Regions from separate parts of the Homo sapiens genome. Here region 2 is linked to region 1. The links come from fine-mapping of genetic effects on gene expression. Tissue or cell type: cerebellum. Region 1 holds a variant in brackets; the other region holds the start of a gene. All regions are shown on one strand. Distances are from middle to middle.

The links. PIP is the estimated chance that this variant, and not a neighbour inherited with it, causes the effect.
Region 2: CRMP1 starts here. The variant in region 1 is fine-mapped to the expression of CRMP1 in cerebellum (GTEx, PIP above 0.99).

The regions. Positions count from the first base shown.
Region 1 is chr4:5,016,827-5,023,761 of GRCh38, forward strand. It overlaps CYTL1 (cytokine like 1), which reads right to left and starts at 2,632. Exons shown (of 4, transcript NM_018659.3): 1 at 2,467-2,632; 2 at 309-353; 3 at 10-138. The coding sequence starts at 2,619. It also overlaps a transcript of STK32B not described here. The variant T/C (reference allele first, on the strand shown) is at 3,119.
Region 2 is chr4:5,891,167-5,896,166 of GRCh38, forward strand. It overlaps CRMP1 (collapsin response mediator protein 1), which reads right to left and starts at 1,920. Exons shown (of 14, transcript NM_001014809.3): 1 at 1,423-1,920. The coding sequence starts at 1,803. RefSeq lists an enhancer at 1-525.

The DNA of each region.
Region 1 (6,935 bases):
TCCACTTACTCTCCTGCAGAACGAGTTCATGATGGTGTACAGCTTCCGTGCTTTGTCCTTCAAGGAATCTACCTGGGCCACTTTCCAACACGGGGGCGAGGCCACAAAGTCCCGCAGCTTGTCCAGCACACAGTAATTCTGGGAGTGGGCAATGGGGAGGGGGCTTGTGGGAGAAGTCAGTAGCAAGAGGAACAGGGACTGAGCTGCATAAGATCTCTCCCTGACTCTGTGCCACACAGCCAGCAGCAGAGGTTCAGACCTGAGTCCCTCAGCCCAAGACCTCCCTCCCCCAGGGAGAACCCTCTTACGTGTATGTCCAGGTACAGCCTGGGCAGGTATCTCACACATGGCTCCTGTGGAAAGGGATAAGGGGTTCTGGGATGCCCACAGGGGCATACCTGGTCACAAAAGTCTCCCTAGTGGCCCTCTCAACAGCCAGACCAGCCCAGATCCCTGGGGCCCTCCCTGATGCTACGACATGCACAGTACTTTCTTGTGTCATACGTCACACTCCTCCAGAAATGGGCGACTGCGCTTCCGGAATTAGACTTTTAGAATACAACTTTTATATCATTTGCTATGAACCAGGGAGCTGTTTTATATGCATACCCATTCAGAAATATACATACACGTATATACATAAAAGCAGTCCTATAACTGTAATATAGAAATAGTGATATATAATACAGTAATACAAGTATACATACAGAGTATATATGTACATCTATAAAACAGTTCTATAACTATTTAGTTATATAACAGTTGTATAAGTTAGTTATATAGTAACTTATATAATAATATACTTATATAATAACTTATATAAGTATATTAGCTATATAACAGTTGTATAACTGCATGTAATTATAGACATTATATATACTTACATAAGTACGATATATGTAATAATACCTATTGTTCTATAGGCATTCTATAGCTAATATGTAGTTGTATATAGTGTATAATATAGTAATATCGAAGTGCATAAATTTGCATACTTTTATATTTCTATATTGGGCTTCCGTTTTTGCGCAGGGCTGAAGGGCAAAAGCCCTCGTGCTCTGCCCTCTCAGTAATCCCCGTGTGACCATGGGCAAGTGCCTTCCTTCAGTCCTCAGTTGTGAAATTAGAGATTTAGAATGCATAATCTTTCCACTTTCTTCCCGCTCTGTGGTTCAGAGCCTCTGAACTTTTTAAACCTTTTAAAATCAGATTCCTTTAAAAGATGATTGCTGTCTATATTCGATAACAAGAAACTTGTGGGTAAATTGTGGTGAAACTGTACAACAAAATGTTAAAACAAAAATGAACTTATTTGATAGTGTCATTAAAAAGTAAGTTGCAAAACTGCTTGTGCTGTTTGACCCAAATTTTGTTTACACACACACACACACACAACACACACGTATTTGAATACCTATATGTAGACAGAAAGCTGAAATATGATCCTCCACAATGCTACGGCAGCAGCTACCTCTAGGTGGTAGAATTACAAGCAAGATTTTTTTTCTTCTTTGTACTTTATTTTCCAACTGTTCTACAAAGTACAATACTTTTATAATTAGGGAAAAAATACATGTTATTTAACTTTTAAAAAGAAAATACCAAGAAGGTGTTAGCTAGGCTTTTGTAAACCCCAACATCTGAGAAACATTATGTTTTGTTTGAAGCATTTGCAAGTGATTAAAAGACACTTTGAAACTTTACAAAAGCTTTTAATGAAGTTTAATGCATTTTGTTTCGACGGAGAAGCAGGCAGAGGCCTGGGTTCTAGTCCCCAAAAGCCCTCCCGGGTCTTCCCCTCTCTGAGTCCCCAGATCTGCCTCTGAAGATCGTGCTCACATCAGCTGGCATCTGTTGAGTACTTGTTCCTGTAGGCTTGGCTCTGTGAGCCCTGCCTGTGTTCACACCTGCCTTTGATCGTCAAAGCCACTCTAAAGGGAGGGGTGCTACTGTCATCCCATTTTACAGACAAGAAAACTGAAAGGCAGAGGCTGAGAAATTTGCCCGGGTCCCTCAGCAGATGAGGGGCGGAGGCCAGTTCTGTGAGCCACCTCTTAGGGCACACTCCTCACTAGGCTAACAAAAGCAATACACAAGCTTCATTCCTCCGTCCTCCTTAACTCTGATGGGGAGCTGTTTTTCTCCCCATCCTCCCACTCCTTTTTTTTTCTTTTTTCTTTTTTTTTTTTTTTTTTTTTTTTACATTTTACAACAGATCCTTTGATATTTGCTAGTAAGTCACAAAAATTGTGTTGTCTTTACTTTTTCTTGTGTTTTGAAGAAAGCAAACCATTGGTATCATATTTAAAAGGAGATGAATAAAACACAAATACTCCTGAGATTTACATTTACTAGAAAAGAAAAATATCCTTTTCTCTCTCTCTCTCTTTTTTTTTTCGTGTAAAGGCAAGGGTTTAAGAACTGGGTCTGCCATGCACCCCTGTCCTGAGCGGGCGGGGGACTCACCGAGGGCTCCGAGACCTGCAGGAGGTTGAAGTCGCGGGTGATCTCCTGGCTCAGGGCCCGCATGCGGGAGTAGCAGGTCGGGGGAGTGGGCCGCGCGGCGGGGGCTCCCGCCAGGAGCAGCAGCAGCACGGGCAGAGGCCCAGGCGTCCTCATGGTGCCAGGCGCTGGTGCAGCCTCGCCGACCGCCCCTTTATGCAGGCTGGGGGTGGTCCAGGGCGGCTCCACGCCTCCACTTCCTGTGGGGCCAGCGCAGGCTGCGGTCCATCCAGGGTGGCAGAGAGGAAGCCAGCACGCCCACCGGGCAGGGTCGGGACAGGAATCCTCTCAGACACGAAAGCCCCAGGTTAAGAGGAGGGGCTGCCTGGAGGAGGGGGTGACAGAGGGTGGCTTTGCCTCCCCCACACTTTCAGCAAGAAATTTCTTTCTGCACAGGGACTTTTCCTGAAAAGGCAGGAACAGCAGATGGAGAGGGGTGGGGGATAAGAGGAGGACAGAGATGGAAGGAGGGGAGGGTCAGAGGAGAGGAGTGGGCAGTCAGGCCTGGGTTTGGATGGCACGGTTTGTCAAAATGGATATAGTGCCAGGAGGGAAAGGGACTAGCAGGGGATGACTGAGCATCCCTCCCTCCAGGCAGCCCGCAGTGGAGCAGGGA[T/C]GCAGAGCTGCGGTCAGGCCACCGGTGTCCTCGTCCATCAATCGCTAACCAGGTAGGTGAGCCTTGGGCCAGGGCCCCCAGCCTCTCAGAAGCCGTGTGTGTCTCTCGGTCCGGAGGATGGGCTCACTGAGCGGCCGTATGTGTGGGGAGTGTGAGTACCCCCACCCTCTTCTACCTCAAGCTCCCAGCACAGGCCCCGAGGGAGAGCAGACCCTCAGGAAGGGTTAGTTTTCAAGAAGTGCATCTCCCTCAGGGCTAACTTCCCAAGACAGTGGCAGGTAAAGGTCTAGGCTCTCCACTTAGACGCCGTGGGTGCAAAGCAGGGTCACCGCCTTCTGGCTTTGACCTTGGGCAAGTTTCTTCAGTGTTTCCTCCATCTCCTTATCTGTGAGATGAGGCTGGTGAGAGTGGCTCACTCAAAAGGCCATAGTGAGGAATCAACAGGATATAGCATGACTGAGCAAGCCTCATGCCAGGCCCATTGTGTGTTTCCAAGTGATCGGAGCTAATAGCACTGTCTCTGTTAAATCCAGCAATTGTCTCTGTGAGGTAGGTGCCACAGAAAAGAGTCCCATTTTCCAGGTGGGAAAACTGAGGCTCAAGAGTTCCAGCAACTTGCTGGAGGTCACAAAGCTGGAGGCACATGGGTTGGGATGAGACTTCAGGCCCTGTCCTCCTGCCATTCTTCCATCCCACAGGGCAGGATGGGTGAGGAGCAGGACTCTTGCAGGCAGAGATGAGTTGGGGTCCTCAGGCTGCCCAAGATCAGGCAACAAGCAAGAAGGAACTGTCAAAAGGGAGAAGATTCTTCCTTAACACTGAACATGACTTACATACCAGCAGCCACCAGGCCAGCTGCCATTGGGAACGCTATGACCCTCACAGCCAGCCAATGAAGTGAATGGGGTTATTCCCAATTCCCAGGCGAGGAAACTGAGGGCCTCGGGGGATGTGAAGCTGGGAAGAGCAGTGGAGCCCTGGAGCTATGTCTGGACTTTCCTGCCTCCAAAGCTTCCTCCAACAAAGGAGGAAAGGGGAGCATCCTGGGCAAGCTCCACATTCCCAGAACAAAACAACCAAAGATGCAGCCCACAGGGATGGGTGAACCAGAGCATGGCATCCTGGACACAGGGCTGGACTGAGGATCAACCACAGGGATGAAGCCCGGCTCCAGCTTGTCCCCACTGTATTTGCCAGGAGAAATCCCTTCTCGACCTGGCCTCCATTCCCTGTCTGTAAACAGGATAGCATCACGCTGGGCGATGTCTGAGGTTCCTTCCAGCCCCAGTGTTTTATTTATCTAGTTTCTGGTGGTAAAAGCCCTGGGCAGGGACTGTAAGCTGTGCCTTCCTGTTTTGTAGGTGAGAATGTGTTCTCTAAACACCTTTAGCAAGATGACATAGGGACCGCGGCCTTCGGGCAGAACTGTGTGTGCTTGGAGGTGGCAAGTGGAGGCACAGATGTGTTTTCTTCTGGGTGAAGGAGTCTCCACACTCCCTCCATGATAGTGCCTGGGGCATGGGCCTCCCTGGCAGAATAGCTGGCCCCAGCTGGGGACTCTAGGTCTGCTTTAAAATGCTCTAGGGCTTCTGGATGTGCTCAAGGAATGGGCTTAAATTCAGAGCAGGGAAGAAAAACAAGCCCATGGACCAAACAAGTCCTGCACCATTAGATCAAGGAGACATTGCTGTGCTGGAAAACAGGAGTCATTTGTGAGATAAATGTACTGCTGGGAGACTTGACCTTGTTCCACCCGCAATACCGTGTGTGGTTATTCATGGGACTTCTTGGGTAAATCAGCTGAGCTCAGAGCTGCAAAGAGGCTTATAGGCCTTCCCATTGAGCATGAGAATGAATGAGTAAGTGGCTGTAGCCATAAGCTGTCACTGGTACCAACTGAGATATGGTGGATGCTGGGCCCCTGAGGAGTCACAGTCAGTGGGGAGACAAGGAATGAGGCTGTTGTGCACTGGGCCAGGTGCAAGAGAATCGCCACCTCTCACTCTACCAAGCCAGGAGTGGGATGAATGGGAAGAACACCAGAGGAGAGGGTGCCTCGTGCTGATTCCCAGGGCAGGTGGAGACAAGGAGAAACAGCCTGTGCCGAGCCCAACACACACAAGCTTGCCTGCCGAGCCCAATGCATGCCAGTGTGCATCCGGGAATTCTATCTGCTTTCTGGCCCTCTCCAGGGTTCCTCCGCATCCTATGCATGATACATTGACTTGCCTCCTGGCATCTGTCTCCTTTAATGACCATGCCCTTCTCTAGGAGAGAAAGACAGTCTTTCTCATCTGTTTCTCGGCACCCAGCACGCAGCCAGGTAGAGCGGATGACCAGTAAGGTGTGGCTGAATGGACTTGGTGACTACTCGTGTTACTCAGAGATTAAGGCACAAGCCCACTAAGAAACCTACGCAGGACAGCCTGACGTGGCTCCCCACCAGGGGCTCCCTATGAGACGCCGCACTGGATACAGGCTGGTGGACCCCCGCACGTGTGTTCTGTTCTCAAATGTCTCCTTCACCACGAATCACCTGCATCCTCCCACCAGCTCTTTCTCTGCCCCCTTCTGAGGCTCCTTCAGCAGTTGGCTGCTCCGAATATTAAAAATCCAGGCAGGAATTTGCCCACAAATCAGGTAAGCCCTTGTCTCCGCCAAAAGGTCTCTTCTGGTTTTCTTAATGTCTTACATCGGGCACGGACCCCATCATGCAGGAGAGCTGAAGAGTCAGAGTTAACGAGCAGGTGAACATCTCTGAGGTAGATATCGGCCATTGCCTTTGGATGGGTTCTTCATTTGCCAGATGCATGTCTATCTATTTATCGAGAGTCTGTTGTGTGCCAGGCACTGAGATGGGTGAAAAGACAGTGAATGACAGAGTTGCTATCCTCTCGGAGGAGATTGATGAGGGCAGCTGACACTCTGGGTGAGTGGTGTGATGGCAGAAATCCTAGTGTTTCTGGAGCCCCTAACCCATCACTGGCAGCTGCTCCCTATCAGGTGAGAGCTGAGAGGTGACGAATGCAGTGGGGAAGCGGGGTAGGTATGAAGGCATGTGTGTGTGTGTGTGTGTATATGTGTGTGTTTGTGTGTGTCTCTGTGAAAGACAGAGAGTGAGGGAGATTGTAAGATATTGTGCTGCTGGCTTTGAAGATGGGAGAAGAGGCCACAAGCCAAGGAATTCAGGAGGCCTCTAGAATGCAAAGAAAGATTCCTGCCTAGGGCCTCCAAAACGGGCCCAGTTAGACCCCTTCTGAGCCCGGAATTGTAAGATCATAAATTCGTGATGCTTGGAGTCCCTCGGTTTGTGGTGATTTGTTACAGCAGCCACAGGAAACAAGCATACTGTCTCTCTGGGGTTTGGTAGAATAACAGAAATTAATGTGGGAACCTAGAAATTATCCAGATCTACCTGCCTGCTGCTTATCCTTCCTTTACAGTCTCCCTGTCAAGTGCTTGTCCAGAGTCTGCTTGCATACGTCCCTGGACAGGGAGCTCTTTGCCTCTTACAACTTCCTTCCAGTCTCTGGGCAGCTCCAAATTCTTCCCAGGGTGGAGATGAGATGCGATGACACCCTGGTGCAGGCCTTCAAATCCTGTACCTTCTTATGCAGAACGGAGGTGTGGCGATGTTAAGACCATTCTCATTCTTCAATGTCTCTACCTCCACTCCTCCCTGCCCCTCAAAACAGAGTCAACTCTCTTTTGGAGCTACCATCCCCACTTCGTGAACCCTTTTAATGAGAAGTGGCCTCAAGACCCTTCAATTACATCACGATTAACGCCTCTCTGTCTAGAGCCCTATCTCCTCCCG
Region 2 (5,000 bases), 870 kb after region 1:
CACACACATACACACACACACACACACACACACACACACACACACACCCTTGCTGTTGGACCTCTCCCTCGCGAGGCTCCGGCTTCAGGACCACGGAGAGCTCTGGAGCAACAGCCCGCCCGCGAAGGGATGGGGCCCGAAGAGGCCCACCACCGTGTTTACCAGTTCCCTGCTCCTATTCCTCCAGGAAGCCCTCCCAGATATCTGCCCCGATCAAGCTCTGCTTCCCTCCAGGCTCACTTTGGGTCACTCATAGCATTTAAGAGGGGAAGGTTTAATTAAAATGATAATGATTGTAATAAAAGTCAACAACAAACATTTATTGAATGCTCACTACCGACCGGCATTAACTGATTTAATTCTCACAATGAATCCGTCGCTCACCCTAGCCTGGGAACTTCTGGAGGGTGGGGCCAGGTTGCTGAGCCAGGGACCTAGCGCCTACCCTGGGCCTGGCACCTAGCAGTTCTCCGGCATCCAGGTCTGGACCAATTCGAAAGCTCCCCAGCCCTCGGATGCTCCAACTTCCGTTTTTCTGGCACCTGACCCTGGCTCTCGTCGGTCCATCCAAAGGCTACGCCGTCCATCCGCCCTTCTTCCCCCAGTTTCCTGGTGACCCCCAGCTCAAGAGAGAATACCCGCAGGGCCCAAGCCCTAGCGTTCCCTCTCCCTGATCCTCCCGGCCCCATGCTCAGGTCCGGGAGGCCAGAGACCCCAGTTCAAATCCCAGCTCTACCTCCACCTTGCTCTGTGAAGCAGGCACATCGGTGTGTGCTGTGGAGCTCAGGAGTGCCCCTTGAATCTACTGGCGCTTGAGGGTAGGGGTTTACGGCTCCAACTGCCCGACGAACTAAATCCTTAACCAAATCCTTCCCCCCAGCAAGCATGAGGGGAGCGCTCGGAAAAAAAGCTCCTTCCAGCTTTAAGCTGTGTGGCCGCAGGCGACTCGCGGAACCTCTCCCGGGGCCCGGCACACAGTAGGTGCTCTATAATTACTACCGACTGAGTGGATGGATGAATGGACCAACACGGAACGGAGCTCCAGTTCTTTTCACAAAACAGAATGAGGGGCCTGGGTTAGATTCATCCCAGAGGTTCCTTCGCGTTTAAGCGTCCATGCGGTAGCTTTAGCCAACTTCCCCTCTCAGAACCTCTCTCCCTTTCTGTAGAAGAGGAGCCGGGACTGGACCCGGGCGATCCCTTCCGAGTCTCACGGACCACGCCGGCCAGCCCCGACCGAGTCGCCCCAGCTCTGGGAACCTCTTGCATGATGAGGTGGGGGAGGGGCCGCGCCGTGGCTCTCCCCAGCCTGGCGGCCGCTGCCCCAACACCGGGGCCCGGGCATGGCCCTCGGGCGCCCCATGCCCTGGGTCCTCCCGGGGCCCGCCCCCCTCGTCTGGCCCGCGCGCGCCCCGAGGGTACCTGGCCATTGTCCCGGCCGAGGGGCAGGTCGCGGGGCGCGGGGCGGCGGATGCGCAGCGTCGGCGGCCGCTCGTCGCGCTCTCCGGGAGAGCTGACCGCGGAGCCCGAGGGCTCGCTCACGTCGCTGGCCGTGTCCTCGCTGCCTCCCGGCCCTGGCAGCCCGACCGCGTCGGGCCGGCCAGCGCTGCGCGGCGTGCGCGCCGAGCCGCGGCGGCCCACACTGTAGGCGTCGAAGTCGATGGTCTTGTTCTCGTAGGCGCCCTCCACCGCGGCGAACATGCCGCCGTACTTCTGGCGCGGGGTCTGCGCCGCGCTGCCCGGCCGCGCCAGGTACACGGGCAGGTCGTCCTCGGTGTTCCACGCGCGCCGCCGGTCCGCCATACCCGTCCAAGGCCGGCCACCCACCGCGCTCCCGCCTGCCCGCCCGCGGCCCTGGGCACCGCCGTGCGCCGCGCTCCGCGCCTCGGTGCGGGCCTGCGGCGGCCCGGGCGCGACTGCGGCCCAGGGAGGGGAGGGGCGGGGCGTGGCGCGCGCCGGGGCGGGGCCGGGGCGGGGCCTCTGGGCGGCTGCGGGCTAGCGGCGCGGCCAGCTACAAAGGACCAGGAGGCGGGGATCGCGGCTGGGGCGGGGAGGGACGGTGACGCTCCCGAGCCGCAGCGCGGAGGGCGGGCCGCGGCACCGCAGTGCCCTCGCCGCACCCCCCACTCTCCGCCCCCAGGCGGAGCGCAGGGCGCGAGGAGAGCGCGGGGCAGGAGCCGTGTGCGTACACTCGCGCGCCCACACGCTCTGGAGGCACACGCGGGTTCATACCTGCACACCAGACAATTACGCCAAACACATGAGAGATGCACAGACATGCTGGCACACACACGAGAGTCAATCACACATGCTCTCCAGAGATACACAGGGGCTCGATCATGCACACCATACTCAATGTTGCACACACATACACATATATGCTTGTGCACATTCCGAGTTCATTACAAACACACAACAGAAATCCTCATTGTCTCACAACCCCACTCACACACAGTATCACACCAAGATTAATTGCACAACTGGAGAGGCACATGCGTTGGACACACCGTTCATTCCGTCAGTTTTATTTTGCTGAGCGCCCACTAGTGCCTAGCACTGTTGTAGGAGCTGGGAACAGAGCCATGGACAAAAGAGACCAAGTGCCTGCCCTCCAGGAGCTGACCTGCTAAGGAGGGGAATTGGATACAAAAGCACCCATATGGTGGGCCAAGAGGTGGTAAGGGCCAGGAAAGGTGGTGCAGCAGCCAAGAGGGACATGCTAGAGGCACACTCCGACAGACACATAAGAGAAGCACATTCTTGCATGAGAATCAGCGACACACACATACACGTGCACGCCAATGACACCACACAACACACCAATATCAAAGGCAAGCTCAGGGCGATTCCACACATGTGCATCATAAACTGGCAACAGGATGCCCACACACAAGTCCACACCAGTAATAAAGGAAGTCAAAAGCTTAAATAAAAACGCTCCAGAGAAAGACACACAGAGACAGAGATGACCACACACACACAGCTGGCAGTCAACCAGACAGACAGATATTCCCTCATTCGAGGGGCACAGTCCACTTTTGTTGCTCCTGGAGCTTGCAGTCTGGGCGTTCTGGGGTTTCTCTGTCGTGGAGGTCGCTCTGCTGGGGCTCTCCTCTAAGGCCAGGCACCACCTGCCTCCTATAGACACCTTCCCTTATTTCTCCACGATTATCAGGCAGAGGATCCTGCAAGTCCCTGGGGACCCTACAGTCCCAGCTGCACTTCCTGGAGAGGCAGAATCGCCAGCTGCCGACCCCCTCCTCGAGCCAGTCTAGACAAGCAAAGTCAGGACTGGGTGGGGACTGCAGAGGGGAGCATCAGTGCTTCTTGCAATGTCCCCCCACCCATAGCCTTCCATGCTGGGAGCTGTCCCTTCAACCCCGGGCCCTGCCAGCTGCAAGCCAGAGCTCCCGCAGCGTGACCAAGCTCCAGGAATACCAGACAGACAGATGGATTCATGTTCTTGTTTTATGACTCTTGGGCCCCATGGACTGAGGATCCTGGGGCCGTCGGATCCGTGGCCTCAGCTGACACCTCCCTGAAGCTACTGTCTTTCAACCCTGCAACAAGGGGTCTGTGCAGCAGGTAGGTATTTTTACCGGCCCCCTCTTGGAAGAGGAAACAGGAGGGGAGATGTGAAATGGCTCCCTCAGGGCCTCAATCTCAAGGAGGTTCAGCCAGGCCTAGAGCGTGGGCTCATCCACTCGGTGGGCATTTAGCAAGTTATTTTTCTGTGCTTGAGAGAGAGGCTAGTGTGGGGACACAGATGAGTATTTCTAAGTCTCTGTCTTCAACAAGTGTTTACTCTCATGGGGGAGAGAGTGCTGAATGCGAGAACAGAAAGTTCCACACACAGCCTCCATCTACCTTCCACCCACCGCAGCTGCATCCTGGCTCCTCTCTCCTTGTGTCCCTGGGTCCACTGTGCAGATTTGCCACAGACACTCCTCTTGAGGCCCATCAGCCTCCAGGCTATCTTGCAAGTGTTTTCGATTTTTCAATGAAAATTTTTCTCTGTCCTGTGAAATACTATTCCCAGCCCATTCCAGGCAAGAACAATTCATGTCGAAAACCACATAGAAATTTCTTCTAAAACCCCACAAATGTTCAGGGTGACATAACCCAGAGAAATATCAGAAAACTCAAAAGTCTGAGTTAGGTGGAACTTTGGAGGCCAGGCCTCCTACTGCATGCTTGAATCTGCTCTCAACATCTTGAGGACACAGTCTCTCAGGCTTTGTTGGTGGTGATGGAAATCTTACTGCTTCTAAAGAAAACCCTTTCCATTGTGAGAAAGGGCTGGGCAGTTGCCAAGACTAGAGGGAGTGACGCAAGGAAGGAGCTGAGAAAGTGCTGTCTTTATGCAGAAGCAGGAAAGGATCTTCATAGCTTCTGCTTATAGAAAGTTTACTACGTGCCCGGACCATGGTAAGCACCTAACAGATAGTAACTCTTTTATGCCTCGCAGCAACCTTGAAACTGCCATTTTAGCCTCATTTTACAGATGAGAAAACTGAGGTTCAGAGACATAAATAACCTGTCCAGGGTCACAGCTGGCAAGTAAGACTTCGAGGTTTAAACAGAGTAGTCTGGTGCCAGAGTCCACATCGAAACAACTACCCTTTCCTCTCCCCAAGAGCCTGACTGAGGTGGTCCCACTGGGAGATAAGAGATAAAGGGACCTAGTTTAGGCAGAAGAGTCTAGGTGGTTGAGTTAGAATCCTGTTTTGCATGCAGTCTTGGGCAACTAATCATTCGACATTCATCTAACACACCTTTGTGGCGCCCACTGCGTGTCACTGACTTTATATCACTTCCTCTCACTCTTTTCTCCCCATGCAGAGGAGGCGATCGGACCCTCCTGAAACTGCATACTGTGTATAAGGGTCCTTGCACACACAGTTCATTTCCGTGCATCATGCTCTGCCTTATACACTGCTGGCTCCCTCAGGCAGCCCCACGTGGCGAACCAGGCCACTTCCATCTTCAGGCTGGAGCGC